4 linked regions of the Homo sapiens genome follow. The protein of the gene in region 2 interacts with the protein of the main gene of each other region in a pairwise test. Each region holds a gene or a part of one and is shown on either strand. Other genes may lie near its edges. The genes, in order: SRPK2, HCN1, ARID3B and SYNGAP1.

The links.
Region 1: the proteins of HCN1 (region 2) and SRPK2 interact in binary tests that used the Homo sapiens proteins (3 or more experiments, as listed by UniProt).
Region 3: the proteins of HCN1 (region 2) and ARID3B interact in binary tests that used the Homo sapiens proteins (3 or more experiments, as listed by UniProt).
Region 4: the proteins of HCN1 (region 2) and SYNGAP1 interact in binary tests that used the Homo sapiens proteins (3 or more experiments, as listed by UniProt).

The regions. Positions count from the first base shown.
Region 1 is NC_000007.14:105,115,110-105,121,054, forward strand, and holds the end of SRPK2 (SRSF protein kinase 2), read right to left. Parts: intron 2,914-5,945; coding exon 2,729-2,913; 3' UTR 1,265-2,728; downstream 1-1,264. UniProt on the Homo sapiens protein: Serine/arginine-rich protein-specific kinase which specifically phosphorylates its substrates at serine residues located in regions rich in arginine/serine dipeptides, known as RS domains and is involved in the phosphorylation of SR splicing factors and the regulation of splicing.
Region 2 is NC_000005.10:45,684,579-45,693,475, reverse strand, and holds part of HCN1 (potassium/sodium hyperpolarization-activated cyclic nucleotide-gated channel 1), read left to right. Parts: intron 1-8,897. UniProt on the Homo sapiens protein: Hyperpolarization-activated ion channel that are permeable to sodium and potassium ions. Displays lower selectivity for K(+) over Na(+) ions.
Region 3 is NC_000015.10:74,592,100-74,599,408, reverse strand, and holds the end of ARID3B (AT-rich interactive domain-containing protein 3B), read right to left. Parts: intron 6,275-7,309; coding exon of another isoform or gene 6,272-6,274; coding exon 6,173-6,271; intron 3,799-6,172; coding exon 3,635-3,798; 3' UTR 1,278-3,634; downstream 1-1,277. UniProt on the Homo sapiens protein: Transcription factor which may be involved in neuroblastoma growth and malignant transformation. Favors nuclear targeting of ARID3A.
Region 4 is NC_000006.12:33,421,168-33,430,064, forward strand, and holds part of SYNGAP1 (ras/Rap GTPase-activating protein SynGAP), read left to right. Parts: exon of another isoform or gene 1-1,730; intron 1,731-2,309; coding exon 2,310-2,431; intron 2,432-4,630; coding exon 4,631-4,736; intron 4,737-8,897. UniProt on the Homo sapiens protein: Major constituent of the PSD essential for postsynaptic signaling. Inhibitory regulator of the Ras-cAMP pathway.

The sequences.
Region 1 (5,945 bases), on a different chromosome or scaffold from region 2:
AGAATCTTATACATTTTGATTCCTTGATGAAGTATATACTCTAAAATACAGTCTTCTACCAAAATTTCATTCAAGTTATTTAAAAGGGGGAGAAAAAAGGAGAATTTAGGAAATAACCTGAACTATGGATAGAAACTGAAGAAGTTCTCTACTCCAATGGAAAGTTTCCTTACTTTATCGTGGTAACTAGTTATGTATGGTCCAGGTATGGGAAGAAGCAAGTTAGTAAATCGGTTTTCACCTAAGAAGTTTATGACTCGGAAGATCTTATATCCACCTTTTCTCTGCCTTTGGGCAGTTCTGTCTGCCAACTTCTAGATAGCCAGCTCCTGTATCTGCTATAAACACATATGTGATCCACTGCTTGTCATTTTCCATGAAGATTTCACATGGACTACAGAAAGGAAAAGATAGATAGGACATTCAATTGAAGTCAGAGAGCTAGTTATAATGTTTAGCATAACCAGTGGTTCTCATTTAGTTTTTGTGCATTCTTTATCAACAAGCCGCCAAGAATCTGATAAAGCCATATTATGCCTAATACAAATGTATATTCCTTCTAGAACAACCGTTTCTGTATTATAAACTAGTTAGGCTGTTTTATCATAAGGGACACACCTGTAAAAATTCATAATCTAGTTTATTTTCCAACATAAGCAAAAACTGCATTAGACAAATTTCATTCAAGTATACTATCACCCTGATAAAAATCCTTTTACACTTAGGGAAGATATAAATTATGCCCTATGGTTCTTGTAAGGATGTTTCTCATAGAAATCACGGATAGCATCACCAGTCTACAGCCACTATCTATCACAGAATTTACATGGAAACCTACAGCCTCATTAGAAAAACTTAGCATGCAAATTTCATAAAGAAATTAATGAATGATCCATTCTACCTCACAGTGGTAATGTGATATAATGGTAATTCCTAAGAGGATTATGTGTCTTGTTTCCTAACAGCAAATGCTGTTTTGTTTTAAATTTGCAATGATCAAACAAATGCAGTTAGTATGTTTTTGATGAACCATGGATGAAAAGGGATCATTGATATTCTAGAGAATCAATCTATACTGTAGCTTTTCTCCTAAATCCCTTCTGCCCTTAAAAAACAATAAATGATTTCCTTATAATACGCCTCAATGCATGTTCTACAACTACATCTGCTGCAACAGGAATGCTGGTATTTAGTTTTAGTGACACTACTCTGATAGCAAATGTTCATTGATTCTATCATTTATAGGGCAATGACCAAGGCAATGTCTGGAAAAAAAAAAACCAAAACACTTTAATTTTTAAGACAACTGCAAGCACCTCAAACAATGGATTATTGTTACAACACTTGTTAGCTTTTCACAATCTAGTTATTGCAAAGGCATATGGATAAATGTTAATGGACAAAGTCAAAAACGAGGCACCTTAATGAATGTAAAATTTAAAATAAAAAGACATTCAATCCACTGACTTCTAAAAGAGGCTAAATATACCTCTATATATTACATTCTAAAATTGTATTGCCTACTATGGTTTGTATCCTGGAGTCTACAATTAATTTTAAGGAAATGCATAAACAAAACTGTGTGCAACCTGCAAAGGGAAAATCATTTTCTCAACTTCGTTTCATGGAAAGACAATGAAAAAGCTAGTAAAATTTGTTGTAGCCACACGTAAAGCTACCTATGGAATGAATGTGATCACTGTTATCTTTGAGCTGTGAGAAGTATTCTGCCCACTGCACTGCAAATTGTATATACCATACCTTGTGTTCTAGACAAGCATGATCATGCTTTTCCAAAAATATATGTATTTTTTCATTCCACACAATTAACACGTTTCTCCAATTTAATCTATGTAGAGCTTAACTTACAGCGCCCAGAGGAGGCAACATGACATGGTACTGAGCCATCACATTTTTAAAGGGAAATTGCTCTTCTTTAAAAGTACTTTTAAAAATATGCAAAATCACAAATGGGACTGCTAAATTATAATGCATATTTTAGAATGAGAAACATATCTTTTCTTCCTTTAAAGTGCCATATAGAGAATGACATCTTATAACCCAGAGCCACTTTGTTTAAAATCCAATGTGAAAAGACTGTTATGGAATGAAAAGTTTGCACAACTCCTTGGAGCAGTTAAAGTCCGCTACATGCAACATAGGCTACAAAGCACTCAAGACTTGGTAGCTTTTCTGAAATTTGAGTCCCCCTCCCATATTTAATGGAAAGTAACATTTACAGGGTGCATTTACATACACTATAATACAGGAATGATGTCCCTTTGCCAGAAGATAAAATTGTACATTTCCTTGCTATTTCTTGGTTCCAACTTGATAATTTCTTAAGATTGTAAATTATATAGTACTCAGCTAAAATATTTCTTCATAAATAGTTACAAAACCTGCCAAAACACAAAGGGGAAAGTATTTTTCATTCAAAAAAATGACATTTGAATGTCACACAACACAAGAAACAATGCTTAGAGACATGTTATTGTTTCCAGAAGAAAATGGTCAGTAAACTACTTAGCTGAAGACAAAAGACTACCCTTCCCCAGGATCACAGTGCACAAAAAGCAAAATGTCAAACAACAGTACCTCAAAGCAAAATAAAGGTCTGAGGATGAAGCCAGCTCACTTGTAATCCTGTTAAAGAATGAGAGTCACCGTTTAGGTCCAATGTACTGGGAACATTTGCTAGCTCAGAATGCAATATTGGTAGAATTTGCTAAGAATTCAACCAAGGATGCCGAAGGCATTCGCCAGCTGAGGCTCGTTTTTCTGGAACCATTTCTAACATCGGGATCAGGAAATCTGTAAACTGTGCAGCATCTTCATGGGGCCAGCCATACTTTTCCACAAGTACATCAAAGAGGCTCCAGGGCTTCAGCTTGGTGATGTGTCGCAGTTCTCCTACAGGGGAAAAAACAGGCCAATGTCAAGAAAGCTCCAAATCTGCATTCCCCATTGTTGGTCCAGTCAGGTTCTTTTCAGTGAAGCGGACAACCACCTGCTCAACACTTGTACAGCAACAACAAAGAACACCAGCTTTTCCCCACTAAGCAATAATCATTACATGTACATATGACCAAGGCATATTTCAAGTAAGCCTGGTGGATCTAAATAGAGGTTAATTAATAGTTCATTCACATTAGTTCTAAGCTTCTTTAAGTAAGTGGAGTGGGCTCAGTTTGCCCAGAGTGTTTTCTTTTCCAAAGGTTGAAGCAAGCCACTCTCATTTCAACCTGGGATCTTCCGTAAAATTTGCAAACTTGAGGCCAACCCAAATCAAACACCATTCATGTCTACGCATTTGTTGTAAGATCTAAGATCCTAGGACATTAATTTGTAAACCTTGAAGTTATACTTCACAAACTGTGCTAGCTGCAGTATGAAAAGTGTCGGTTACAGGCAGCTTTGGTTGACATAACAGAATGACTAACAAGCTAGTAAATGGCCTACGAGCTGTAATGGTCATTTCATAAGAGAAAAAAAAGGTTATTTTTAAGTCAAAACTGCAATAAAGGGCTGAGGGCAGTGGCTCACTCCTGCAATCCTAGCCGTTTGGGAGGCTGAGGCAGGAGGATCCCTTGAGCCCATGAGTTTCAGACCAGCCTGGGTAACATAGACCAGACCCTGTCTCTACTTAAAAAGAAAAAAAGTAGCTGGGCACGGTGGTACATCCCAGCTACTCAGGAGGCTGAGGCAGGAGCATTGCTTGAGTCCAGGAGGTCAAGGCTGCAGTGAGTCAAGGTCATGCCACTGCACTCCATCCTGGGACAGAGCAAGCGAAACCCTGTCTCCCCATAACCTTTTCAAAAAGGCAATAAACTGTCAAAAGCTCCAGATAATTTCACTGTGAATAACTCGTTTTCTCTGCCTGTTTGAAGTTTTCATAGGACATCCCACCCCTGCCCACAGACCTCCTTAGGTGCCCCTCAGTGCATCCTGAGCAGCTTCTGCAGAGGAAACACCCCCCTGTGCCCACACCTCAGAGCAGCCAGGTCTCGGTGGGGGGAGAGAGGCATTCAAGCACCTGCAGGGCACACTTCATGCAAGGACTGACTTCTCTCCCCTTTCAACTGCTTTAATTTAAACAAGGTACATTTTTTTCATGAGATGCATCAATAGATAATCAGTGCTCTGCTCACAAAGGTGTTCTCAGGAGGCTTGTTCTGTTTCACCCATTTATTCGAGTCAACTTGGAAAAGCCCTCCCGTTTAAAAACACAATGAAAAGGAAAGAGCATTACAGAAAAGTATAAGAACAAAAGGGGAAGTAGCCTACAATCCTACCCACAACTGCTCTTCTTTTGTGTCTATTGTGAAGAGTGTTCTTACACACTAGTATGTCTACAAAGTTGCAATCATGCTGTGCACAGGGTTCCGTATAAAGAATCTTTTAAGAGGGCTGCTTGCTAAAGGGGCTGAGATGTAAAATAAGCTTCTGTTTCCAATATGAGGACTGGAGCTAGAGTAAAGCATCGCATCCAGACTAGACATCAGGTCTGTGTTGATGAAGAAATGAACCTGTAATATTAGAGGCGGGAAAGGATCTCCTGTTGAAGGAAACACAGTCTCCATAAAAACAAAGTCTGAACAGAGACTGCAGGTTTATCCCTCTAAGCCTGAAATTCCGGCTCTAGGAATCCAGCCCAAGGAGATAAACCCTGGTTGCACCACCCCAAATTCATGCCTAATATATGCTGGCACAAAATTATATGTACTCGCAAAATTACGAAGAGCCAGTAATAGTAAAATGGTGGTTAAAAGAAAACCAAGGTAGATTCACTTAATAGTATTTAATATTACTTAACAACATGGGAGAAGATCATGGTACAACATTAGGCAGTAAAAGAACAGTCAAACTATGTCCTACAGATAATCACAAGATTATTAAAATGCTCATTAAGATGGAAATCAACTGAATCAAAACATCAGCTTTTGTTAGTAGGTTATTTCAATTTCCACATTTTCTGTAATATGACTATATTGATTTAGACTGTTGATCTCACCACAGCAACAGTTAAAGCAAACTAAGAAAGCTCACATGTGACTAAACCAAGTTCTCTGGGAAAGGGAGCGAACTTTTATGACATGAATCTATTCTATCTCAGAAAAAATACTCTCCAGGTTTGCAAATATAGGTAACTACAGAGAAGCACTGTGTGCTGAGAATAGTAAAGGAACCTATTTCTGAGGCGCCAGGTGTTAAACTAAGATCCATCAACAAGGCATCTTTTAAGTACAATCTTCCATGAAAAGAGAAGTTTTACCACTATAAATGCTTAACAGCTGCATAGTAACAGTGAGCAAAACAATATAATAGTGAAAGGCCATGAGAAACTATTCATCCATAACTAGGCATACTATAAACTGGTAAAAATATTCGCAAGGAGCAGTAAAATATCTAACTACTTTTAACAAGGTAAAGACTGTGCAAAGAAGCAGTCTATAAACAACAGTATATGCAGGAGAGTCCTAAACACCTATGGTCCTGAGCACAGAGCAGCACTGCAATATAACAAAACACTGAACCGCCTCTAAAAAAAAAAAAAATGTGTGGACTTTTTTTGTGGAAAAAGTTTATAATATAATGCAAAGGAAAATCAACTCACCCAGATGCTATAATGATTATGTGTGCAAACCCTTAAGCTCAGTATAAGAAGTAACCTTGCCCTGGAAATAGTTGATAAGGTTACTTAAACACAAAGCCCAAGCCCCCAACTCTGTATCTATTGCTAGGAGACACAACAAGAGTGGGCTCACTGAATGAGTGAGGGTCTCGAGTCCATGAGCCAGCTCCAGCCCTGCAGATGATGCCCAAGAAATGTAGCCACCTCCATCACTTAGAATGATAATTAAGAATAAGAGGGGAAAGCATATTTTAAAAACACATTTTCACCATTTGCTCTTACTATAAAAGTAGCACCCTAACAAGTTAAA
Region 2 (8,897 bases):
GAATATTTGACTTTTCCCTTGTATAAATGGAAAAAAGAAAATGGCAGGCACAAATTAAGCAATTATCATTATTTAGATCTTTTTAAACTGAAAGATATCTGAAAAAATAGATTTTAAAACATAATTACAATATACACTGGTGTTCTAAAACAAACTGCAAAAATAATCATGTACTTGTTTACATTCAGAATATATTTACATCTTATTGTTTCATTTTTTTGTATGATCTCAAAACCAATATAAGATTTTCTAAAATCTATAACGTCAAGATAATGTAATGAAAGAACAAAAATAGGAAAGACAAAATTCTAGCGGTAGTTTTTTTCTACAGGGAAAGGAATGTGTGAGTAATTTTCAACAGATACTAGAAATTTTTGCGGTCATGATCTAGCCTTTACTTTAGGCCCTTTCCTGAAGGATTATTTCAGGGAGGTGCTTTACTACAATTCCTAAAATGTCAAACTTAAGTTCATTAATCATTTAACAACTGAGTGAATGACACTTAAGAGTAATTTCTATGAAGAGTGGGGAGTTATTACAAATGAAGATATCCAGAGGATTCTTTTCCTTGACACTTTTAATAAACCTTTACATGGCCAGAGAAGTTTACTATGTTCTTACTCCAGGGCATGTCGTGACTTTAACACTGTTTCTAGTTTCCCTGCTCACGATAATTTTTAAGACTGATAGCTTTCTACTTTACTTACCTCAAGGGACAAGGCTGTGCTCCCACTGAGACTTTCAGAGAGCTAGCTAGTGCCTCTTTTCCCCACCAGAGCCCAAGAGTGCTATTGCTGTGTCTGGCAGGTAGTTTTCTCTACCCCTGGCGTAAGTAGGGCAGAGTTGCTGTATTTACCTTTTTCCTCAGCAGAGGATGACAATAGAAACCTTCAGAGAGTAAAAAGCAGTCCAATAGTATAGGTACTGTTTGAAATAACTGGGTGGAAGCTACAGAATTTAGTAAACACAACAAGCTCATGTTTTTGTTTATGCTGTGGTATATAAGCACCCAAACTAGGGAAAATAGGGATAGTTACTTAAAAACAAATGTAGCTCGATTTTTCTGTAGTGACAGTATGGTCTTAGTCTTATTGAATTTCATGTGAACAACACATAGACACATTTAATTTGGAGGTTAAATATGATTTTTAAAAATTCATGGTGATTTTATATTAATTAGCTAGAATTTTACTAAGGTTTAAAAGTGATGCTTGGCAAGCATTGTGCTTCCATAGCCAATTGATAGTTATGATATAATCATTTAAATAGGTTGAAAGAATATTTAGAATACTTTTGTGGATGATTTTTATTATGCAAGCAATTTATCTTGGAAGAATTTATCACCAGACTATTTGCCATTTTAGGGATTCTGTCATTATTTTGTTCCATCATGCTTACACAAAGGGACTTTTAAAAAGAATGCTCCTTTCCATATGTATTGCCAGCCAACATCTTGCTCCTCATAACGGAGGCAGTTTTGTATCTTGACTTCTTATTTTTTTCAATTTCTTTTCATCATTAGTATGAGTGTGTGAAAAGCTTATTTTGTTGTAAGTACTCAAGGACTCTAGAGATGGGAGTTACTTCCTGAAGATACCGTCACATCCGTTCTTCCATCTCTGCTTTGAATTGCAGCCACAACTGTACTGATATCAGAGATCACTGATGTGTTCATTAGGGAAGGGAGGCTTCACCCATATTATACAGTTCATAATAGAGAGAACATTTGCTTCCAGGAGCTTCTCACAAGAAAACAATTCAACCTTCTAGGGTTTAAAGACGAATTAGCCTACTGTTATGTTATCTTTGTGCTGAACACACTCTGTATCTGCCAGCAATGCTTATTTTATTTGCTTTTCATATCAACATAGCCAAAATTAACCATAAGAATTTATTTTTTTTCTATGTTAGGTGAACCTTTTTGTGCTTTAAGTTCAATTACATTTTTCTTAGTGGCTCTAGCAACTGTTAGACACAACATGAAATTTCTTCAAAGATTTAAACGTGTGAATTTATTTAGTTACTTTTTCTTAGTATACATGTAAGTTATGCAACTTTAAATTTTAGCAAATGTTTCACTGTTGCATTTAGTAGATATTATGATTTATACTATTAAAATATTATAAGATAGTTTTCATTTTTTTCTGAGCAACTTTCCCTTTAAACCTCCTTCGGGGTATGATTATAAATTGAGAATCAGTAAAGAGGTACACTTTACTAATCATATTTAATTATGTGGACTTGGGTTTATGAACGTGCCTGTTGAATAATGAAAGAAATTTAAATGCACTGGAAAGATATATTACTTATTATTTGTATCATAGGTTCATTTAAGAAAATTATATTCAACTATATCTGCTTGATCAAAAACCACAAACCAAAACAACATCACCACCACAAAGCAAGATAAATAGTATTTGTAATTCTGCATTATTATACTCAATGCACCTATGTCCTATAGTGAGCAGGAAACCAGCAGAATGCATTTAGTATGATTTTCAGGTGATAATCTTATCATTCTGAATATAATTCTTGTGTTTAGCAGATAATTCACTTCATTATTTAGAAACAACAATTGGGCTCCGGAAAAGAACTTTCAAATAGAGTCTCTTGTAAGTACAGTGCAAATTATTGCAGATCATTAGCACTACATGAAGAGTACTGAGCATTTGCAGGGTCTGTGACAAATTTTCATTTTATCATTTTGTGTAAAGGAGTAACAAACTATGAATTAGGCTGACACTATATATTTTAGTTGTAGAAATAGTGATAATAAAGAAAAAAGTCTGCATGCACTATGAAAATTATATTTTCTCTAAGTACTTTTCTTCTAAAAATAATTTTCTTTGTGAAGGCATCTGGATGTACAACTTACCATTAGTTTTACAGGAAAAAAAAATCAGGATTCCTGGTGCATCCTGGAATTTTATGTTTTTGCAAAATAAACCTTCATGGCTCTGTTAATTCTATTTGTATATATGTGCTACAGAAACTATTCAAGGGACTTTGTAGAAGAATATATATAGAAGTAAAGAATATATATAGAAGTTGATTATTTTTGAGTTGAGTGTTTATCTGACACATTTCACCCAACTTTGATAAGATTGATTTCATGACTCTTTCAAGTTATGTTAGTTAGTTTTCTCATAGTATTTTTCTATTTTGTCTAATAGTTGACCACGCAGTTAAAGCAAGGAAGCAACATTACTCATGCTTTAAATTTACAACTTATAATTTTATTTATATAAACCTAATTTTATTTTCAGGTCACTAGCTGTAACTCTAAAAACATAAGGCTAATTTTACATACATACAAAGTTAGTAAATATTTATAAATTTTAGACTATCAGCTTTGTTGTATACAGTTATTCAGTATTTTTTAAAAAGTGCTGCAACAAACATCTTCGCACCTTACTCTTCATTGTTTTGGCTAAAGTTCAGGGAATGGAATGACTGCCTATGAACATTCTAGAGATTCTATACATATTGATTTGACCAATTAATACTGCCTCCAGTTTACAGATTTCTTAAAATGACACGAATAACGTAGGTTCTCCAAGGTTGACATTCCTGTTATGATATTTACAGGCTGTTTTAGGACAGAAAATGTAACCTGTCCTCCATTTCATTCAACATAGAGTGACAAGAGTGATCTTTAAAAAGCAAATCTAATAATATTGTTATGCTCTTTAAAACCTTTAGTAACTTCCCATTACTGTTAGACTACATTGGACAAACTTTCTATGAGCTTCAAGACCCTGCATAATTTCAGCCGATATATGCAGCCTCATTACATGCCACTCATTCCAGCTCTGTGTTCCAGCCACTTGGGTAAATTTTTAGCTCCTAGAACAACCTGAGTTCTCTCCTGCAACTAAGATTTTAATGTGACATTACCCCCAAGCTTGAAATACTCTTTTCACTTTTTATCACTCCACATAACTAGTTTCTACTCATCTTTTAGATTTCCATTTAATCATTGTGCACACACTTATTTTTCTATCTAGGCTTTCTGTTCAGCAGAATTTATAATTATTTTTATATGTGTCCTTTCCCTGGAATTTAAACCATGCTACCTTATGAATCTTACTCAGTTTTACATTCCCAATGTTGTAAAAATGCACATAATAGACTTTTCTTGCCAAACTTTCTTAGAGGCTTCATTTTTTTTTCTTCAACTTTTATTTTAACTTCAGGGGTAAATGTGTGGGATGTGCAGGTTTGTTAAATAGGTAAACATGTGCCATGGTAGTTTGCTGCACAGATCATCCCATCACCTAATTATTACATACAGATATGGTTTATTTTTAACAGCTTTTTTGAGACAAAATTCATATACCATACAATTCACCCATTTAAAGTAAGCAATTCAATATTTTCTAGTAAGTTCACAGTTATGCAGCCATCACCACAATCAATTTTAGAATATTTTGTCATCCTAAGGAGAAACCCCATATGCATTAGCACTCACTTTCTCTCCTCTCCCGCCCTCCCGCTCAGCCTTAAGCAACCACTAATCCTCTCTCTGTCTCTGTAGATTTTTGCTTATTCTGAATATTTTATATCAGTGAAGTCATGCAATATATAGTATTTTTTATTGGCTTCTTTCACTTAGCATAATGTTTTTTCAAGGTTCATTCATGCTGTTACCTGTGTCAGTACTTTATTCATTTCCTTGCTGAATAACATTCCATTTTATGGATATACTACCTTTAATTTATTCATTTATCAGTTGATGGACATCTGAGTTGTTTCTGCTTTTTGGTTATTGTAAATACTGCTGATATGAATATTCTCGTACAAGTTTTTGCACAGAGATGTTTTCATTTCTCTTTGGAGTGAAATTTCTAGGTCATCATAACAGACCTGTAATAAATATTTATTGACTGAATGGACAAAGAATTATTCTCCAAGCAGGTCATGAGAACATTTAATCTTAGAGTTAATAAATTCAGATGAAAGCAATGAAAGCTCTTATTTTTTCCTACAGTAATACCTGGCATCTCCTTCCCACTGGCACCTGCAAGTATGTGCCCCAACTATTACATTTCCCTGCCCAATACACAGATGAATAAATGAAACTGCAGAGAAGTTATGTAGCGTGAACATGGTGACATAGATAGATAGTAAGAACTGGGCCAGGAATTCAGTTCTTGTGAATATTAATTTTGTCACTTCAACTCTTTTACATAATAAGAAACAAGGCTGCCAGTATAAATAATTCTCCAAACCTTCTGGGAAACGTGATGGATTGAACCTAATCATTTATACTTCCTCCCTCTTGAAGTCACTCCAAAATAATATGAAAAAGCACAGACACATTGGTAAGTAGAAGAAAGAGGAGACATCAGAGAATATAGATCTCAAGAACATTTGTAAAATAGGAAGTTAATGGACAAATTATTCCACTTCCACAATCCTTCACCCATTGAAATCCAGAAGAATTCAGGACTTGGAAATGCCAGTTATGAAATAGTTCCAGGAAAGCCAGACTGAAAACAGAATTAAATAAGGGTTTCCTTAGTGAATACAGAACTCCCTGTGCTCACATTAGGATGCTTGGAGCCAGGCCAATTTTTCTCAGTCGGGAAACTGGAGAAAATACCTCCAAAGGGAGACATTTCAAAGTCTTCAGATAAAAAATCATGTTTATTGCCTAATCACTCTGCAAAAATTCCCGCATGTGTACATTGAGGCTGTGATTATATTTTTGGTATGGCATTGGTTAATATGGAACTGAAAGCAAAAGATAACCAGACATTTGAGAAAAGTCTCATGAGGGAAGACTAAATCAAGCAGAGAAAGACTAAATCAAACAGCCAAAGAAGGTCCAGAGGGATGGCATAAGGAGAAATGACAGTATTATAAAAAATACTCCACAAATGATATCTTCATAAATATTTTATCTGCACAATAAGAACACGTTGCTATGAAAAAAATAGTAAGAAATTTAAAAAACAGCTCTTGGATGAAATGTGTTAGCAGATAAAGTCTAGGAAGCCCGTTAGAATTAGAACAAAAAGACAAAAGGGAATAGGAAATATAAGAAAATATAGCAAAACCAATAACTAATTTATAAGGTCAAAATCTACCATAAGGTATTCTAGAATGATAAAAAAGTGAAAATGGACATATGGAATTAATAGAGACATTTTTGATAAAATTTTCCAGATAGCAGCAACTGAAATGTCTGTTCTGAGGAACTTATGGAATACTTAGCATCATGAAAGAAAAAGACTGTCCAAGGATCATTACACAGAAGCTTTACAACACCATTGAATAAGCAACAAACAAACAAATGACTAAGACTTTTCAAAGAAAAAGTTACATATCAAGAAGTGGGAATAATACTTTAAGGTAAATGACGATGTAACAAAGTCTGCAAAATTCTGAGAGAAAGTAATCTCCATAAGAAATCCATACCTTGCCATAATACAAAATTTAAATAAAGATATTCAGAAATTAAGAACTCTAGTATTAACTACCCATGTACCCTTTCTTAGAAAGTTATTAGATGACATGTTCCTGCAAAACAAGAAATTACACCAAACAACATGAAGACATAGAAGCTAGGAAATGGGCTCTAACACAGAGAAACCTGAAGTCCCAGGAGTACTCCAAAATAGCTAGCCTTGAAAGAAACCAGTCCAGACTGGGGCGGTAAAGCAAAGCGTTCTGGAGGAAGGCCTTCAGGGTAGGAAAAACAAATAGATGGATATCAGCATTTGATAAATAATGTTACTAGGTGTTCCAGAGATCATTTGGAACAATATATTGATGACTTTCATATTTTGTAGAGTACATTGGAGACAAGTAAATAAACAAAAGAACTTTATTAACTCCAGAATGATCTAAAGGTGTCTAAAAAAGGGAAAAGAATCACAGTTCCTTGCTTGGTTCAACAGTACCTAATGGTTATTTGGTCATAATAATGTAAACAAGTTGACTGTTTTAAATAAAGATTGTGGTGCAATTATTCTAGGTTGGTGGGAGGGCAGGAGAAACGTAAATGTGGTTTGGGTGATGTCAGAAAGCTAAGTCCTTGTGTTCCACAGTTGGCAGCTAATGAATAGTATTTAAAATTGATAAATTAATTTGTCTTTGAAATATGAACTAAACACTAAAAGAAACAATTATGGTGGTTGAATTTGGAAAGTGATATGTAGGGTAAAAGGAAAAGGGAGAGGCTTATATGTTCTCCTTATAATCCTTGATGCTGTTTTGCTTAAAAAAAAAAAAGACTGGGCATATATTATTTTGAGGTAACAATATTAGGAACTGTTTGGGTCAGAATCTGAGCTTCACCACCTTAGTAACTGGACCTTAATTTTCTCAATTATAATAGAAAAAAATATATATATATGTAAAATTCATGGGGTATATAGTATATATAGTGTGTATATATACTGTATATGCTATATAAACATTTCTATATATGTAGTGCTTAGAAGTTATGCTCTGCATTTAATGCTATTTAAGAGTTAGTTATTTGTATGAGTGTAAAATTAAAACAGAATTAAGGCATGTTAGTTGTTTGAAAAATTAAATATTCTCTAAGTACATACTCTAACCGTTTCCATAATTTCTGAAGAAAAAAATATATGAAGGAATGGCCATGTAAATGGTGTGCTGCTATTTCCTTTTTACCTTCATGCAATCCCTGGCAGCAGAAGCCCTGATGTGCAATGCCATATTTTATATATGCTGTGTGAAATTGGTCTAGTCATGAGGCAGTTAGCACTGGAAAACTTTTTTTTTTTTTTGAGATGGAGTTTCGTTCTTTTTGCCCAGGCTGGAGTGCAATGGCACGATGTTGGCTCACCGCAACCTCTGCCTCCTGTGTTTAAGCGATTCTCCTGCCTCAGCCTCCCAAGTAGCTGGGATTACAGGCATGTGCCACCACGCCCAGCTAATTTTGTATTTTTGTTAGAGATGGGTTTCTCCATGTTGGTCAGGCTGATCTCAAATTCCTGACCTTGGGTGATCCGCCCGGCTCGGCCTCCTAAAGTGCTGACGTTACAGGCATGAGACACTGCTTCCGGACGGAAAACTTTTAATATATCCTGTTTCTGCAAAATTTTCCAGTTTAATCTCTTTAGTTGGTATAGAATGCTACCGTATTGAACATTTGGAAATAGCTTTTAGGGAAAATTATAATGGCATTCATTGGGTTGCATGTGCTACTTTCTGTTCATCTTTCTTTTCATCAGAAAATGGCATAGTTAAACCATTTGGGATGTTATTTCAAATCAGTTAAGTATTACATATGAGGCAAATAAGATGAGTTATAACCTGATAAATCTTTCCTTTTCTTTTTTATTGTCATGTTTAACAGTCTAAAAATTGTTATTTAGAAATATAATTATTTCTAGTTAGGAACGTAAAAGAATTTGAGAAATCTATAAATTTGACAGAATTAAAAGAAATCTTTGTGATATCATTTCTAGAGCAGTTGTCACTTATACCCTTGCAGAATGTTTTAGCCTTATTTTATTAAAAAGACAATGCACCTTATTAAAATTTACACTACCTAGGTTGTTTGAGGAACATGAGCAGAGACTGAAAAAATGAATATAGAAAGTTACTTGATTAGTTTTTTGTTTATTTGTTTTTTGAGACAGAGTCTTGCTTTGTTACACAGGGTGGAGTGCAGTGGCATGATCACGGCTCACTGCAACCTCCGCCTCCTGGGTTCAAGCAATTCTCTTTCCTCAGCTTCCAGAGTAACTGGAATTACAGGCATGCACCAACCACACCTAGCTAGTTTTTGTATTTTCAGTAGAGATGGGGTTTTACCATGTTGGTCAGGCTGGTCTTGAGCTCCTGACCTCAAGCAATCCACCCACCTTGGCCTACCAAAGTGCTGGGTTTACAGGCGTGAGCCACCGTGCCTGGCC
Region 3 (7,309 bases), on a different chromosome or scaffold from region 2:
ACATCTCTGGGAATTCGTACCCAGCTGCGTTCGTGCTGAGTTCTTCATGACCCACTCCTTCCAGCGTCAGCTGGTGGATCCAGGGCTGGGTACTGAGCCGTACTGGACCAGTGGGCCCCCTCCCGGGATCGCTGGACTTGGAGCAGAAGAGTCCCTCCAGGGCTGAAGATTGGACACAGAAAACTTGGGAACTGTCAACTGCCCTGTTATTCACCTCGTGAAAAAAGCTGGATTTCTAATGAGAGCGAATGGAGGTGACAATTCCCAGAAACTGGAATTGGGATGGTGAGATTTTAGTTCAGCCGCCGGCGGTCTCATGCGTGGAGGTGATAAAGTTGAGCTTTGAGGTGGTCTTCAGAGGGAGAGGAATACCCTCTGCGGGCAGAGCTTCCTGGGTTCCGGGCCCTTCCGGACGTCAACACAGGTCCAAATGCCCTTGGGCTCCTCCGCACACCCTGGGTGCAAGAATAAATCCTTCTCTCTGCCGCCATTAGCCTGACTGGCTTCGGTTACTTCGCACAAAAAGCCCTTGCCGAGCAAACGTCCCCGGTGCTGCTCCAAAGGAGACCCCTGCCCTCCTGGAAGCTCCTCCCTGAGGCCGGGTATCCACTCGCCGCTCGCAGCCCTCGCTCTAGCTCCAGCTCCTGTTCCTTTTCCTGCCCACCCCGCCCAGTGAGGAGATCAGCACCCCTTGTCTGTCTCTGTGTCTGTCGGGGTTCGTGCCTCACTGTGTCCAAGCCCGGCTTCTATCCCTAGTCCCTTCCTGTTCGCGCCACTCCTGCTTGCTTTCTTCTCCCCTTCCCTCCAGCGGTGGTTCCAAACCTTCTCTTCCATAAGACCCTCCATTCCGTTTCCCAGAGACCCAGGGGTGCCCCTCGCAGGGGCAGAGGCGCAGCCTGTAGTGGATCTCCCTCCGCGCAGGGCGGGCAGTCTAAGGTCATTCCCGGTCACCCTGCCCCCTCGCTCCCATTGGCTCTGGGGAGGGCACGTGACTCAATCCTGGCCAATGGCGTGGCGGGGCCTGTGGCTTGCTGCCGGGCAGGCTTTTCTAGGAGCTTCTGGGGTAACGCCAGAGAAACCTGCTAACACACAAGGTTAGCTGAGAGTGAGCTCAGTGAGCTTTCCCTTTGAAGAAGGCGTGGGTGAAGGGGAGAAGGTTCAGGAGAAATCAAGGGGTCAGGAGTAGTTCACTCAGTCCCCTTTCACTCTGAAGGAGCTCACCTCTCCCCAGTACTGTCCAGTGGAAAGGCCACTCAAAGCAACTGAGAGAGACCTGCTTGTGTGAAGAGGTAGAGGTTTATTGAAATATAAACATTCGAGAACATGTAAGATAGAAAATAACCACAACATATAGACACTTGCTGCAGGAGGACATCTGAGGTATTTACTCACTGCCTAGGCTACCCATGTGCTATCACATTTTTCCTGGTTAGAATACATATAAGATGGAGAGCAGGAGGGGACAGAGCTGCCCTGGCTGATGGCACCTTCAGGGGAAGCTCTGCTTGGGCCAAGGCCCCACTCGTGGGGGCACCTGCTGGCACCCCTCATCGGGCTCTGGGTGACACCCTGCTGTTGTCCTTGAGGGCAGTGAGGGTTCACTCCAACGGTGTGGCCAGGCGAGCTGCCTGGGGAAAGGGAGAGGATCCAATGACCGGAAAGACACAGTGTGCTTTCCCTGCATCCTCTGGGTGGGAAGAGTCCATCCTTTGTGACCAAACCCCTGAGAAAGACATACTGGCCAAATGTCTGAGACACCTTCAAATGGGCCCAGTGCCAGCCAACTGGGCTCCTCACTGGCACCACGTCCCAGATGCCCTTCTCTGCCCACACCCTGCAGGCTGAGGCCAGAGGAGGTCAGCCCTCGGGAGATGGGGTATGTGTGTGTGTGTGTGTATGTGTGTGGGAGTGGGGGTGAGTGTGTGTGGAGGGCTGAGAGAAGACGCAGTTGAGCAGAGCTGCAGCTTACCGGGCTGAGGTATCTGTTTGTGCTCAAGCTTTTGATTCCCTTTCCTCTCCTACACAGGACTGAATGCGAGCCACGCTGCCACACACACCCACGCCACGCGCGGTGTCTCCCACTGCCACAGCCCCATGTCACAGTGGTGGTGTTCTGCTGAACATTCCAGGGCTTCCTCGACTGAGGTGAGCCGCAAGCGAATCAATTTTCTTTACAGCACAGGAGCTGCCTGCTCCCGCGCAGGGTCCAGGAGGAGCTGTGGAGTTATTCATCTCCTCATACCCTGGGGCGGCTCAACCTCTGGCAAGGCCAGCGAGGACCCCAGCCTGCCTGTGCCCTGAGCTGGGAATGCTGAGTGATGGGGAGGTGTCCTCTGCCTCCCTGGTCAGCTGGGGGTGGGGGTGTGGCAGAAAACGGTCTTCAGAACTGGTACAGTTTCAGGGCCCGACCCGGTGTGAGAGCGGGCCTCTCCACTCCACCTCCCCGCCCCCGCGATCCCTGAGTCGTCTCCCCTGCATGCCTCCACCCACCTCCTCACTGGGCTTGAGGGAAGGGCCAGAGGGGCCGGGTTACCCAATCACTTGCTTGGCTTTGGGGGTGATCTGTTTTCATTTCTTTGGTGCTACGATAAAAATTTTAAAATAAAAAAAAAACAAAAGTCAGCAAAACACATATAAAAAAGATTTCAGAGATGCAAATACTTCCTGAAGACTCAAACATCAACAATTACAAATCTGAGGTATTTCAATGAACCTGACATCGGCACGTGTGGGGATGGTGAGGCCAAGATGGCCCCATAAGAAATAGAAGAGGGCTGAGCTGAAGAAGGCTGAAGAAGGCTGGGGAGGACTGGGGAGGGCTGAAGAGGGCTGGGGAAAGGATGAGTGGGCTGTTTTTGGGAAAGCAGGCCAATAAGGGCAAGTGGGGAGCATGAGGTTTGGCGGGGGCGGTCAGAGAATGGTCCGTGTGAAGCAGGTGCCAGGGCTGGGCAGCCCCGAGGCTCTGCCTTCCCATCAGCAGATGCCCTGTGGGCCCTGGCCCTGAACTGCCCTCACAGCCTCTTCCTTCAGACTATTAGAAGGGGGATCTGGGGCCCTGAGGACTGATTCAAGACTTGTGTTTGAGGGACCCGTACCCCAGGAACCTAACAGTAGGCAAAGTGGGCTGGAAGGGCCCCATCCCATGCTCTGCAGAGAAGGGCATGAAGGCATGCTCTTGGCTCCTGGCAGCCCCACATGGGACTTAAAAACAGGGGAAGAGACTAGTGGCCCTGGGGTCATGGCAGAAGGCAGGGTCAGGGAAATAAATTAAAAGGGGAGGGAAATGGAGGGCCTCCAGCCCTGCGTCGGCTGACAGATTGTCGATACACTGTGCCCTGAGCTGGGAGGTGGCTGGGGAACCCTGGAGGAAGCTGGACACCCACAGACCCCCACCCAGTTCTCCAGGACAATCCCTGATTGGACAACGCTGTCTGTCCTGCCCCTCTAGCCTCTCCCTGCCCCCAGAGTACAGCAGGACCTGAATGGAGCCTGGACAGACGGACACGTCCAAACTCTCAATGTCTGGCCAAATGGTGCTCGTCGACGTGGGCTCTGTGAGATGAGGTAAATTCTGTGCATCAACTTCCTTCACTCTCGACAGGAGAGTGGCAAGTGGGAAGCTGGGTCCTGCCCATCAGAGGGACCAGCTGGTGGAGGGCTCTGCGCTGGGGGTGCCCCGGGATGAGGTAGGACTTGGTGAACAGTGAGAGCTGCTGCTGCTGCTGGCGCTGCTGCCGAGGCTCTGGGGAGCAGACCCCGTGATGAGGTGGACCACAGGCTTCTGGGCAAACAGCACACCTTGGTGGGTGGAAGAGAAGCAAGTGTGGGCAGAGGAAGAGCGAAGGGGAGGGCCAGCTCCTTTCAGTAAGTATTCACCGCTGGCCTAGCCTGTGCCTGACTCCGCTGTAGACACTGTGCTAGGGGGTGATGGGAGAAGATCCAAATGCTGTCCTGCCTTGAAGTGCTGATGGGCTGGGGAGGGGGACAGATAGGTCGACAGAGTAATTTTGCTAAAATGTCATAAATGCTCTGAGACAAGGTGTACCCAGGGTACACAAAGAGGAACACCAAGGCCAGGTGTGGTGGCTCACAACTATAATCCCAGCACTTTGGGAGGGTGAGGCAGGAGAATAGCTCAAGGCCAGGAGTTTGAGACCAGACTGGGCAATACAGCAAGAGCCTTGTCTCTATAAAAATTTTTTTTAAAATTAGCTGGGCATGGGTAGTCCCAGCTACTCAGGGGGCTGAGGCAGGAGGATCACTTGAGCCCAGGAGGTTGAAGCTGCAGTGAGCTATGACCGCACCAATGCACTCCAGCCTGGGTGACAGAGCCAGGTGGGGTGGGTGACTGGCTCCCTTCTTGTCAGGGGTTTGAGGAGCCTTCAACTTCTGACCCTTCCTCATTCTGAGAGGGAAGGAGTTACCTTCTCCTTTCTCCTTGACAGAGGACAAAAGGATATCAAGATCCAGGCCTTGAATTCCTACTTCCCTGCTTTCTCCATGGACCTAATTCCAACCCCCAACCCTCCCAAACCACAGCACAATGAAGAGGCAAAGGGCACCAGGCCCCACCTCCTCCAGGGGCCTCCTGTGACAGGTAGAGACCTCTGAGCAGAGTCTGCAGACATAGCATGACTGGTGAGCCCACTTGGCACCACTGCTCCTCTACACTCTGTCCTCTCTCTGAAGTGAGTGGCCCAGCAGAGATCCAGAGCATGCTCCCAGGAGGCCTGCAGGGCGGTGCTCTGAGGGAGTGTGGCCCTTAGAATGGGAGTAGGCCCTGAGGAAACACTCCCAGTTGTGATAGAAGGTGCAGTTGTAGGGCTTTCGCCTGTCTCCACGAGACACCTTGCCAGGCTGGCTGACACTCCGCATGCCCTTGGGCCCTTGGTAAAACAGGTGGGTGATGCCCTGGGCCAGGCCTGGTGGCCCCCACTCATAATACTGTGCTTTTTTTTTTTGAGACGGAGTCTCACTCTGTCGCCCAGGCTGGAGTGCAGTGGCGCGATCTCAGCTCACTGCAAGCTCTGCCTCCCAGGTTCACGCCATTCTCCTGCCTCAGCCTCCCGAGTAGCTGGGACTACAGGCACCCGCCCCCACGCCTGGCTAACTTTTTGTATTTTTAGTAGAGACGGGGTTTCACTGTGTTAGCCAGGATGGTCTCGATATCCTGACTTCGTGATCCACCCGCCTTGGCCTCCCAAAATGCTGGGATTACAGGCGTGAGCCACCGCGCCCAGCAATGCTGTGCTTAACAAGAGTCAGGTGGGCTTGTTCCCAAGCTCGTCCGTAAACCAATGAAATGGGAATGGGAAAAGGACTGCTGTTTTTATGAATATTAAGTTTTGTTTTTTTTTTTTTTAATTGAGACAAGGTCTTGCTTTGTCACTCAGGCTGGAATGCAGTGGTACAATCACGGCTTACTGCAGCCTCGACCTCCTGGGCTCAAGTGATCCTCCTGGCCTCAGCCTCCCAAGTAGCTGGGACCACAGGTGTGCACCACCATGCCTGGCTATTTTTTTTTGTATTTTGTAGATTTGGGATTTTGCTATGTTGCTCAGGCTGGTCTCAAACTCCTGGGCTCAAGTGGTCCTCTTGCCTCAGCCTCCCAAAGTGCAAGGATTACAGGCATCAGCCACCGTGCCCAGTCATGAATACTAAGTTAAACCCTTAGAAAGACTCTGTAAAGGTGCGAAATCAACCAACCAACAAAACACTGTTGCCAAATTAGGTTTAGGAAAAGATAACTGTAAAAGACTGGGGGGCAGGGAGCTTAACAATGTAAGCTGATTCTCCTATACTGGGGTTCCTTTGCCTGTGTCTCAGTCTGCAAAAGGAAGAGAAGAGCTGAATTACAGTCAGAGAAAGGCTGTGCATGAGAAGACCTGGGGATTGTGGGACACTGACTGACTTCTTCAATTAACGAGCCAACCACTGGTCTAAAAGGGTTAGGTGAAGGGTTTCTGCCAAAGTGGGAGGGACCTATCATCCTGTTAACAATCCACAGTCTACTAGTCCAGAGGACCACTTGACCTTTGCAACTCTGAGACCAGGAAAAAGGAAGCCACTGTGGGAGGTGTTCAGACAGAGGGTAAGAGGCAGGGCCAGCCGCAGAGCTGCCCTGTGGCTAGCTGCGGCCACGTGGGCCTCCCCCAGAGCTCCAGGGCCTCACCTGCATAGGTGGTGCCATCGATGTCCACAGACATGTTAATGCTCCCAATGCTACTCGTGGTCAGGTTCAGTGCTGCAGCCGAGGCCTCTGCTCTGTCTTCTGCTGGGGACAGGGAGACAGTGGGCCTGGTCAAGCCTTCCACAGCACTCCTGTTGTCCTCTCTGATGCTGCCTGGCCACCCCTGGTCAAAGCCTCACGCTGTTAAAAGGCATCTATGTAACCTTCTCCTGAGTGTAGGGTATGGCAGGAGATCCCAGGCTCGCCAATCTCCTGTTGCTGGCTTTTTCCACTGACCCAGTTCATCCCCTCAACTACCTCTGCTCCCAGAGAAAAGGAATCACAGTAGGCAAGGAGGCCGGCTCCGGCCCCACCACTCTGCACTGGCACTTTCCAAGTGACGGGCAAACCCTGAACTACACTATACACCAGGCCCAGGAAATCAGAGATCAATGAGACCCAGCCCCAACTTTGAGGACCCACCTGCCCTTTCTTTCCTTTGACTCTGAGTCCCTCAGAGAGAGGAGTCTACGCCCTCAGCCCCTCCCCTCCATGACCACCCAGGCAGCTGGCGTTTGTGGAAGCCTGCAAGTGCTGGCACACACGGCCTTTGGCTGGCTCACCCCAGACTCAGAATTCTTCCCGGTGAGCTGTCTTTTCTAACAGCCCTTTGCTTTGTGCAGGAGCAGGGTACCTGGCCCTGGATGAGCTGTTACCTCCCAGTTTCCTTCTGGTCCCCAAGGGCAATGGGGTAGGAGGGGCAGCCTGGGAATATGTATAGCTCCCTTCACACCTGGCTCCTTCCCACACATCTCATTCATGTTTGCTTTGAGATAGCATCAGGACCAGAATGGGAAAGAATGTGTGTGAATGGGAAAAGGGGCGTGTGGCTTGAGGAAGAGAATGTGGGGCACCAGAACAATGTGAAGAGGAAGGGAAAGGATGTCAATTATGCTGCCAAACTTGTGTTTCCTCCTTCTGTCTATATTCCTGAGTCCCACTGTCCAGCCCGGGGCAACTTGGCCCCTCGCTGAGCCTCAGGAACATGGGGTGTCTTCCTCCCAGACCTGCAGACGGTGCCCTGCTCTTGCCTACATCCAGTGAGGTGCTGGGGTAATGGCTGGTGGGGAAACGCAGCAG
Region 4 (8,897 bases), on a different chromosome or scaffold from region 2:
GTCCATCACCTATATCTTTCCCCCCATATGGTGTCCGTTCCTTATATGAGTCCCCCTTCTGTCCTTCCCCTATATCAGTCCCCTCTCTGGTGTTCATTGCCTCTCTCTTATCTCTTTTCTATGTGGTCGCTCCCTTATATCTCTATCACTTCTTTACTAGTCCGTCTTGACCCCTTCTCATAGCCTCCGCATTAGGTCTGCCTCCTTTGCTCTGACACATGTCCAGTCGAGCCCTTCAGGTGTATTCCCTTGCCCCTGGGCATTTACCATCATTTCTGCCTCCTTTTCTATCTACTCCTATTATTTGTCTCCCAGACCATTCCTTGTCACCACAAGTCTGTGCCTACCCACTTTCCCTTAATACCTCAACTCTTATTATCATTTCTCTTTTCTTGTCTCCTCTACTTATTGGGGTGTTGGAGATTTGGGGTACAAAGACACAGGTTTTGATGATTAGAACAAGGGATCCCCATCTCAGCCCTTGAGGGATTTCTCATCCTAGTAAAAATTTCCCGTTTCTCAGCCATGTTGCTCTGCCTCTTGCATCTGCCTCCCAGAATCATTCTTCACCAAGTCCAGACAGTATGTGTGTGTGTGTTTCTAGAGTTGTTCCTAAGTTCCCTGCTGCCAGGAGAAAGATGCCCTCTGAAGTCTAACCCGCCTCCCTTGGCTGCAGCCTGAACCAGCCCTTTCCCCAAATGCTTATGTGTATCAACAGATTTCTCCTCTGGGTATACCAAGTGTCTAAGTGCGGTGGGCATGTTGCCTGCAATGTCTGTAGTTTCAGAGGCTAGGTATTGGTGATCTCTGTATCTAGAGAACATTAGTTAGTCTCTGAGATGGGTTGAGATAGAGTTTCAAAGTATGTGGTTTCTAAATGGTGGACATTCTGAGGGTTCATCGCTCACTGTGATCTGGAGGTTGGGTAAATTTGAGAGACATATTTATAGACAGAAAAGGGCTGAATTTGCAAAACTCTGCTACTCAGTGCATTCTGTTGGAATGAAGCTCAAAGACCAGTTCTCCTGCAGTATACTCATGGTTATCCCATAAAGGTGACAGAGTTTGATCTTTTTTCCATCTAAAATCTGATACCTTAAGCCTAATTTCTAGCTCTTTGCTGTCGCCAATGTGACATCTCTCTTACTTCAATAGGGCCTGTGTGGCATTGGGGTTTAAAGGAGAGGCAGTTTGCAGGGAGAGCGGCATGGCAAGAACAACAGAGCTGGGGAAGGAGGACCCTGGTCTCATCTCAGCCATAGGCGACACTTGGTCTACTGTTCTCTCTTCTCAAAGTTTTGTTCCCATCTCCAGCTCTTGTCTTTGGAGGCCCCTCTGTGTCACCAGGCCTGGATATTCCATTCTTTCCCCCTGACATCTTTCTTCCTCAAGCTCCTCACTGTGCCTTGAGAAGGCTCCTGACCTATGGAGTGGCTTCCATCCTGTCCACTGAGACTAGGTGGGGTGAGGTGGTGGGGGCAGTGTTGAATCTCTGGGCACTGAATGGGAGAAGAGATAAATTTGGTCTCTACTTGTCCAAACAAGGGCATATTTCCCACCTTCTGCCCTGGGGCCTCCACAGCCAGATGCCGACAAAAGCCATCTTCTCCTTACCACCAGAAGAACCAGAACTTTCCCTAAAGGATGAGCAGGGTTGAACTAGGGGAGGAGGGCACAGAGGAGGGAAGAGTTGGGAGGGGAGGCCCTCTCATGTCTCTGACTGTGAACAGGTAAGCTCCCCGACTTCTTCTTTTCTAGATATTTAGCCCTCAGAATCTCATGATCCCAATGTTCCTACACACACACCCCATCCTTCTTTCCCACAGCCATGTAGCTTTCCTCATACTCTTTTATAGAGGGGTGGTGCCACCTTCCAAGTCCTTGTCTTCTGCAGCTATTTGGATGCCTTCCTCTACCCAGATATCTGACACCAACTTCTCTGTTTTTCTCCTGCCAATTTTGCGGCACCTCTACCTTATTTTCCTGAAGTAGATGGAGAGCTCCTTCATCTTTCTCTGCCCCCAAACGTGTACCTTCTCTGTCATATAATTCCCATCCCTGAACCTCTGCATTTCTTCCCCCAAGTCTCCAGAGCCTTCTGTGATGTGATCCTCTCCTCTTTTCCCCTTTGTATAAATGCTTGTCTTGTGTTCCTTTAGAGTTGCCAGGTGTCTCACTTTCAACTGTGATCTCCTGAAGGCCGGTAGGGTCCCCTTCTCACTTTGTGGACTCTCTTCTTGCCATTTTAGGCCTCTGCTTCCAAATGCATAGAGCCTCCCTTACTGTTTCTGTGTGTCTCTGTCCTCCAGATGTACGGGGACCCTCTATGCACCGAACCCAATACGTTCATTCCCCGTATGATCGTCCTGGTTGGAACCCTCGGTTCTGCATCATCTCGGGGAACCAGCTGCTCATGCTGGATGAGGATGAGGTGAGTGTGGTGAGAAGGCTGGGAAAACGCATGTGGGAGAATGGGGAGAGTCCTCATTAGTGAAGGGGAGAGAGACACAAAGAAGGCAGACAAAGAAGAAACATTTGCAAATGGCAGGAGGGTGGCCATTGAGACTTGGGTTGGAGTGTGACAAGAGGGGTAGTCATTCTCTCATCTTGGGCAGGGAGTCTTTGAGGGTTATGAGCTGTGTTGGGGAGGAGATGTGGTTCTGAAGATTTCGGGGGTGGGGAGGCTCCTGTTTTCACACTGTCCATATTGTAGGATAGGTTAGAATGGGGAAGGGGAACTGAAGGGTTTGGAGAAGGGGTGAAGACATGGAAGGCCCTCCCAACCAAAGCAATCCTCAGGACCCCTCTCTGCTTTGCCCACTGAGCAAGACTCCCAGTCCTTTCTCCATCAGGGGGCAGAGTGCAAGAAGAGAAATTGCAGGACGCAGAGAAAAGGCAGGGGATAGAGGAGGTTTTAGGTAGCTGGAGGATACTGGGAAAGAAGACTGAGGTCAGTGGATCTTGGCATGATGGGGTGAAGACTGGGAGAGTGATTGAGATCAAGGTTTAGAGAGACACTGAGAGGGCTTCTGCAAGGGAGTGGTTGGACATCAGGAAGGAATATAAGGGAGGGGAACTGGGAGTATGTGGAGTTATCTAAAGGAGTACAAGTGGAGTAGGGGCAGGGACTAGCCAGAGTAAAGGAGATGAAACGGACAGAGGCCTCTTATGGGAGGTGGTGGCCAGGTATGGAGATCTGAGAGCCAGGGAAGTGTGGGTTCTGATTTGGGAGCTGGGTCAGCAGGAGTGTCCATTGGAGGAAATAGAGGATAAAAACTGGAATGGTGCCCCACAAGTGTGAGTCAGGGAATGGGGGTGATTTGGGGGACAAGCTTTAAAAAATGGTAGGGTAGCCTGGAAAACCAAACGTGGTGAGAGATGGACCCTGAAAGTTATTGGGAATGGTGTGATGAGGAAGGGTTAGAATTTGAGTCAGGGCTAACTAGAGTGTCAAGGGACCTATGGGGGCAGGTGAGAGTGTGGAGAGATGGCTGGGTAGACAGCTTCCAGGCCACAGAGTAAAGTAGAGGTGTTAAGGAGAGGATATGGTGACTTTGAAAGGAGAGGTGGCTTGGGGAGTCTAAGTTTTGGACACCATTGGGAGACATTTGAGTGACTGTGGTCAAACCCCTAGATCAAGGTTTGGAGTCTGTAGGAGAAATGGGGGAAACTGGAACCCAGAGTGGGGACTGTTATAGGGATGAAGAGGGAAGACAATGGATTGGGGTAATGAAGGAATGACAGAGATAGGGACAGACTGAAGGGACCAGTGGCCAGCAAGTTGAGGGGCAATAGGAATGGCCGGTCTGGAGCAGGAAGGGCGTGTGTGTGGGAGGAGGAGTAGATAGAATTGGGAAAATGAGCAGCCTGAACAGACGCAGGGAGTTGGAATTGGATGGGTGGTGGAACTGGGGCTGGGGGATAGTGAGGGGTCTGTTCCTGTGGCTCTTTGTAGAGGTGGAGGAGACTGCAGGGGTGGAGGTGTATGGAGGTAGGGATGGAGGTGGACAGGGGGAGCTGGGTGTGAAGCTTAGGGAAAGGTGATGGCTGAGGGGAAGAAGGGAACTGAGAGATGCTGGGTCGGGTGATGGAAGGAGATGAAAGGTGGGGGAAGGTGACCAGGCCCTCTGGCGGGAGGGGAGGTTGGGTCCCAGTCTGGCCGCAAGCCGGGCCGTGGGAGGGAGACAAGCTGTGGATCCTGATTATAAATGCAGCTTCTGCTACCCCCGTGACAGGCTCGGAGGGAGAGAAGGGGGTAAGGGAGGTGGGAGGTTGGGAGGAAAGCAGGGAGAATGGAGGAACTGAAGGTCAAGGGAAAACTGGATTCAGGAAGTAGCTAACTTCTGAGGAGTTGCAGAAGAGCTGAGTAGGGTTTGGGAGAATTCTCCGGAAGGTGTTTCAAGACAAATGGAGGGAGAAAAGAGGGTGGGACGGCAAAGAATGAGAGAGAGAGACTGGGGGAGAGAAGGGAGAGATCCAGTCACCAAGTGTGGAGGGGCCGGGGCAGAAAAAGTGGGCAGGCTTAGGGGGAAAAGGAGGCCCGCCCTTCCTGGGAGGAGGCGGAGGGGGGAAGAGGGAGGGGAGGGGCGGCGTGGGCCAGGGAGGTCTGACACACCCCCACCTCCCCTAGATACACCCCCTACTGATCCGGGACCGGAGGAGCGAGTCCAGTCGCAACAAACTGCTGAGACGCACAGTCTCCGTGCCGGTGGAGGGGCGGCCCCACGGCGAGCATGGTACGGCGGCCGAGCAGGCTCTCATGACCCGGACAGGCGCGGGGAGAGGGCTGAAGATGGACCGGGCTGGCGGGGCGGGGGCGTCGGGGAGCGGCGGGAGCTGGCCGGGGGCGGGAGAAGGCGGAGACAAAGTCTTGCTTCCCGAGGGGAGATGGCGCCCTCCTCTGGAAGGTGGAGCGGGACAGGGGCTGTGGGTGAGAGGCCCCTGTGGGTCCTCGCTCGGCTTCGCTCCCTTTCTCCTCTCCAGCAGTGAAGTTTGACTATTTTCCTGGTGCTTGTAAAAATAGTCTCCTTAGATCTTTAGCTTCCAGTCCGTGTGTTCCTGCCCCTGCCCCTCCCAGCCCCTGGTCTGGGATCTTGGAAAGAATGACCTAGTTCCTGCCCTCCCCCCAGACCTCTTCCCCACCCCTATGCTCCTGATTCTTCTTCCGGACCTTCAGTCCTTGAGGTCTCCTTTTATTACCCCCTGTTTTCTCCTCTCATCAGCTGCTTCTATTTTCTGCAATTGTATCACCCTTTCTCTTTCCTCCCTGATTTCTCTTATTTTCTGTACCCCTCTTGATTACCCCGTCCCTCCCCTCTGCTCCCGGCGAAAGTCCATCAGACTCCCATCTCATCTCCTTTCTGTCTGTAGAGCTATCTGCGCGGTCTGTCTCTCCAACTCTCTCCCTCTCTCCATCTGTCTCTTCCCCTCCCTCCCCCTTTCTGCCCCCCCAACCCCCTCTTTAGTCATTTAAAAAAAGATTTTTGTCTTCCTGAGAAGTTCGCTTAAAAGGTTTCCATGGGAACAGTGAGGGGAGATGAAGGCAGAGAACAGAGATCTGCAGCCAAGGTGCAGAGAGACGCCCTCAGCCCCCGGAAACCCCCTCGTCACTGCCCCCTTCCACTTCATTTCCCTTCCCGGACCTAGCGATCCAGGTTCCCCATTCCTCCAACCCCCAGGTGACCCCTTTTTCCCACCAGCTCCCCCTCCCTTCAGGAATTCAAGCTACCAGTTTCTCTCCCTTAGAGAGCCAGTGACCTGTCCCCATCCTTTGGCTCCTTCCAGCCTTCTGATAGGTCCAGGCCCTACTAGCCTTGTGGGCCGGTTTGGGGACCTTGGGTGGGTGGGTGGGTGGTCAGGGATGTGTGTCATTGTCATGGAAACCCCATACCATCGGGGTGTGTGGGTAGCACATCTCTGTGAGGCAAAGTCAGGTGGTGGTGGAGTGTATACAGAGAATGTGTGTGATGTCTGTCACATCTGTGTGTATATGTATATGTGTGTATGTCATGTTCATGTCTGGGGAAGATGTGTGTGTTTGTGTGCATGTGTGTACACCTGCGTTTCCAGGCCAGAATGGTCACATGCTCACAGAGCATGTTTATCATGTGTCCTGTGGTTGGCAGATCTGCCCACTTATTCCCCATCTTTCTCCTTATCCTGAGTCCTCAGGGTCTAGGGGTCTCTGGCGGGGGTCTCCCGTGTGTTTTGGGTGGGGACACCGTGTGTGTTTGGAGTTGAGGTGGCATGTGGAGGTTGCTGTATTGGGGTTCAGTAGGGGCTGGGAGGGGTTCCAGGGGCATATGTATTTGGGGGGAGGGCTTAGTGAAAGTTGATGGGGGTGAACGTTTAGGGTCTTCAGGCAGACATGGAATGTGTAAAGGGCATGGAGGATGTGCAGTGGACATAGGGGTCGTTGGGACCTTGGGGACTTGGCAATGCCAAGGTGTTTGCTGAGGCTGTGGACTCTCCAGCCCGGGAGAGGTCGCCGGACCTTTGAGGGGCATTGGAATCCTGGGCTCCTCCTCTGCTGGGTGGAGCCGCGAACCCTCGTTCTCTCCGCGGTTTTGTGTGTGTGGGGGGGTCCTGCTCAGGAGGGGATGGTGGGTGGCCTGGTTTGTTTTGGGGGTCCCCTTGCCCCCCTCCCCCGTCTCTCTCGCGCTGTCTCCGGGCGACAGGGCTCGTGACAGAGGCGGCCACGGCAGCAGCGGTCGCCTAGCAACGGCGGCGGGGCCCGGGCAACGGCGGCAGCGGCGGGAGCGGCGGCGGAGGGAGCCGTTCCCGCGGCCGTCACCGCGCGGCCGTCCCGGCCGTCCCGGGCCCCGCCGCCGCCCCCACCGCGCCGGGCGGCGCGAGCCGGGCCGTACCGCCCCCTCTCCCTCCGCACCCCGCCCTTCCCCCGCGCAGGGGCGGGGCCCCTCCCCCACCGGGGACACCCCTGGCCCCCCCGGGGGGCGGTGCGAGGTAAGGGCGGGGCCGGGCGGACTAGGAGCGCGCGTAGAGGGGGGGGCGCCGCGCGCGTGGGGCGGGGGCGCGCGTGTGCGTGGGCGCGGGGAGGGGGGTGGGGAAGCCGCGGTGGCGGCGGCGGCGGCGGCAGCTGCTCCCTCCGCATGTTCTCGCTGCATCTTCCGAGTGGGGGGAGTTATGGTAACCGGAGGGGGACAGCGGAGGACGGGAGGGTCGGGGACCGGCCTCGTGCGGACAGGGTCTTGAGCACGCGGGGGCGGCCGGTGTGTGTGGGATCTTGGAGCCCCTGGTGGAAGGGGCAGCCCGTGTGTCCGCGTGTGTGTTCGTGCCCATGCTCGTGTCTCCTGTGTGTCGGTGCCATGTGCACACGGGGGCCCAGTTCCTCGTGCACACATGTGCAGCCATCCTTGTGCAAGTGTGTCCTGTCTTATCTTGCCTCTGCCTGTTTCCTGCCTAGGGGGCTGTTGGGCCAGCCACGGGCTTGTGGGGCAGTCCGCGGCCTTGCTGGTCCATGTCACCTCTGACCCTGAGCATGCATATCCCTGGCTGGGGCTCACCTCCTGTCAGGCTTCTGTGTGTGGGAATGTGTGGCCCTATGAGCAGGATTTTCTGTGTCCCTGGTGGCAGGTGTGTGTCTTTGCATGTGTGTTCCAGCACTGGCCTGAGTATCTGTGTCAATCCCAGCATGGGTGTCCAGGGCGTGTCTGGATGTGGGTGGTGTGGCTGGGGGGAGTAAGTGTGTGAATGTGTTCCTTGGAATTCTACTGTGTATGAAACACCTTTGGGCTGGGCAGGTGTAAGCCCTGCTTGGTCAGTAAGTGGGGACAGAAAAGCTTAAAAAGGGAAGAAATGGGGTAAAGAGGAAAAGTGGGGAGGGGATAGGAGAGAAGGAATGAGAGAGGCTTGAAGAAGAGAGCAGAGAGCAGCAGGCCAGGGAGAAAGAATAGCTGGAGAATGGGAATGTGGGAGAAAGCCAAGCCAGACTTAGAAGAGAGAACAGGGGATAAGAGCTTAAGATGGGGAACTGGATAGAGATGGTGGGAGAAGAAGGGGTCTGGGAGCTGGGGAGGCAGTGGGGAGGAGAGAGTCAGGCCTTCTGGTAAAGTGATCTCTGAAAGAAGAAAGGGAAGAAGATGGGAGAAGGCACTGGATTCTTGTAGGCCTTGCAGGATCAGGCTTGGTTTTGGATCAGGGAAGGCCACTCAGGCATACGGGCTGGCTCACAGTGAGGCCTGTCATAGCAGGGACTGTCATTAGAGGTTCATATCCCCAGCACAGAGCTCTGTCTCCCATTTCTCTGCTCTGTGTCCAACCCTGTTCTTCGCCCTTCTCTGGCAACCTCCCTCCTCTGGCTCCCCTTGAGAGCTGCCAGCTGGGTGTGGAGAGGAAGAAAGGCCAAAGGGAAGGTTAGGGATTTGGAGGGCAGGGGGAGATTCTGTGGGTGATGGCAAGATTAGAGATGTTGGAGGGGCAGGAGTCCAAGCCCTTGCTGTGTGTGTGTGAGTGCCATTGTGTGTGTACACAGGGTGTGTACATGTGTGGGTGTGTGCACAATGCCTGTGTTACGGGTTTGTGTAGGTGGCTGTTATGTGTGTGCATGCGTGTATACATCGTGCAGGCATGGGACATGGAGACCCAGGATCACAGTTTGTGCTTTTCAGGTTTGCTGTGTGTGTGTGTACACGGGTGTGTGTTGTTTTCTCTGTACATGTCACTGCATGCAGCATTAATAACAGGATGTTCTGTGTTTCTGTCACTCTGCCCCCCCTTTCCTCTGTGTTTCTGCTATTCTTTTCCTGCGGCAACAAAAGTGTTTAATAAGCATATGTGTATGTGGCCTCTGTGTACCTGTGACTTATGAGTGAGTTCATGGATCTTAGTTCTTGGTAATATGTGTAAGGTTATATTACTTCCAAGAACCAAGCAAGCCA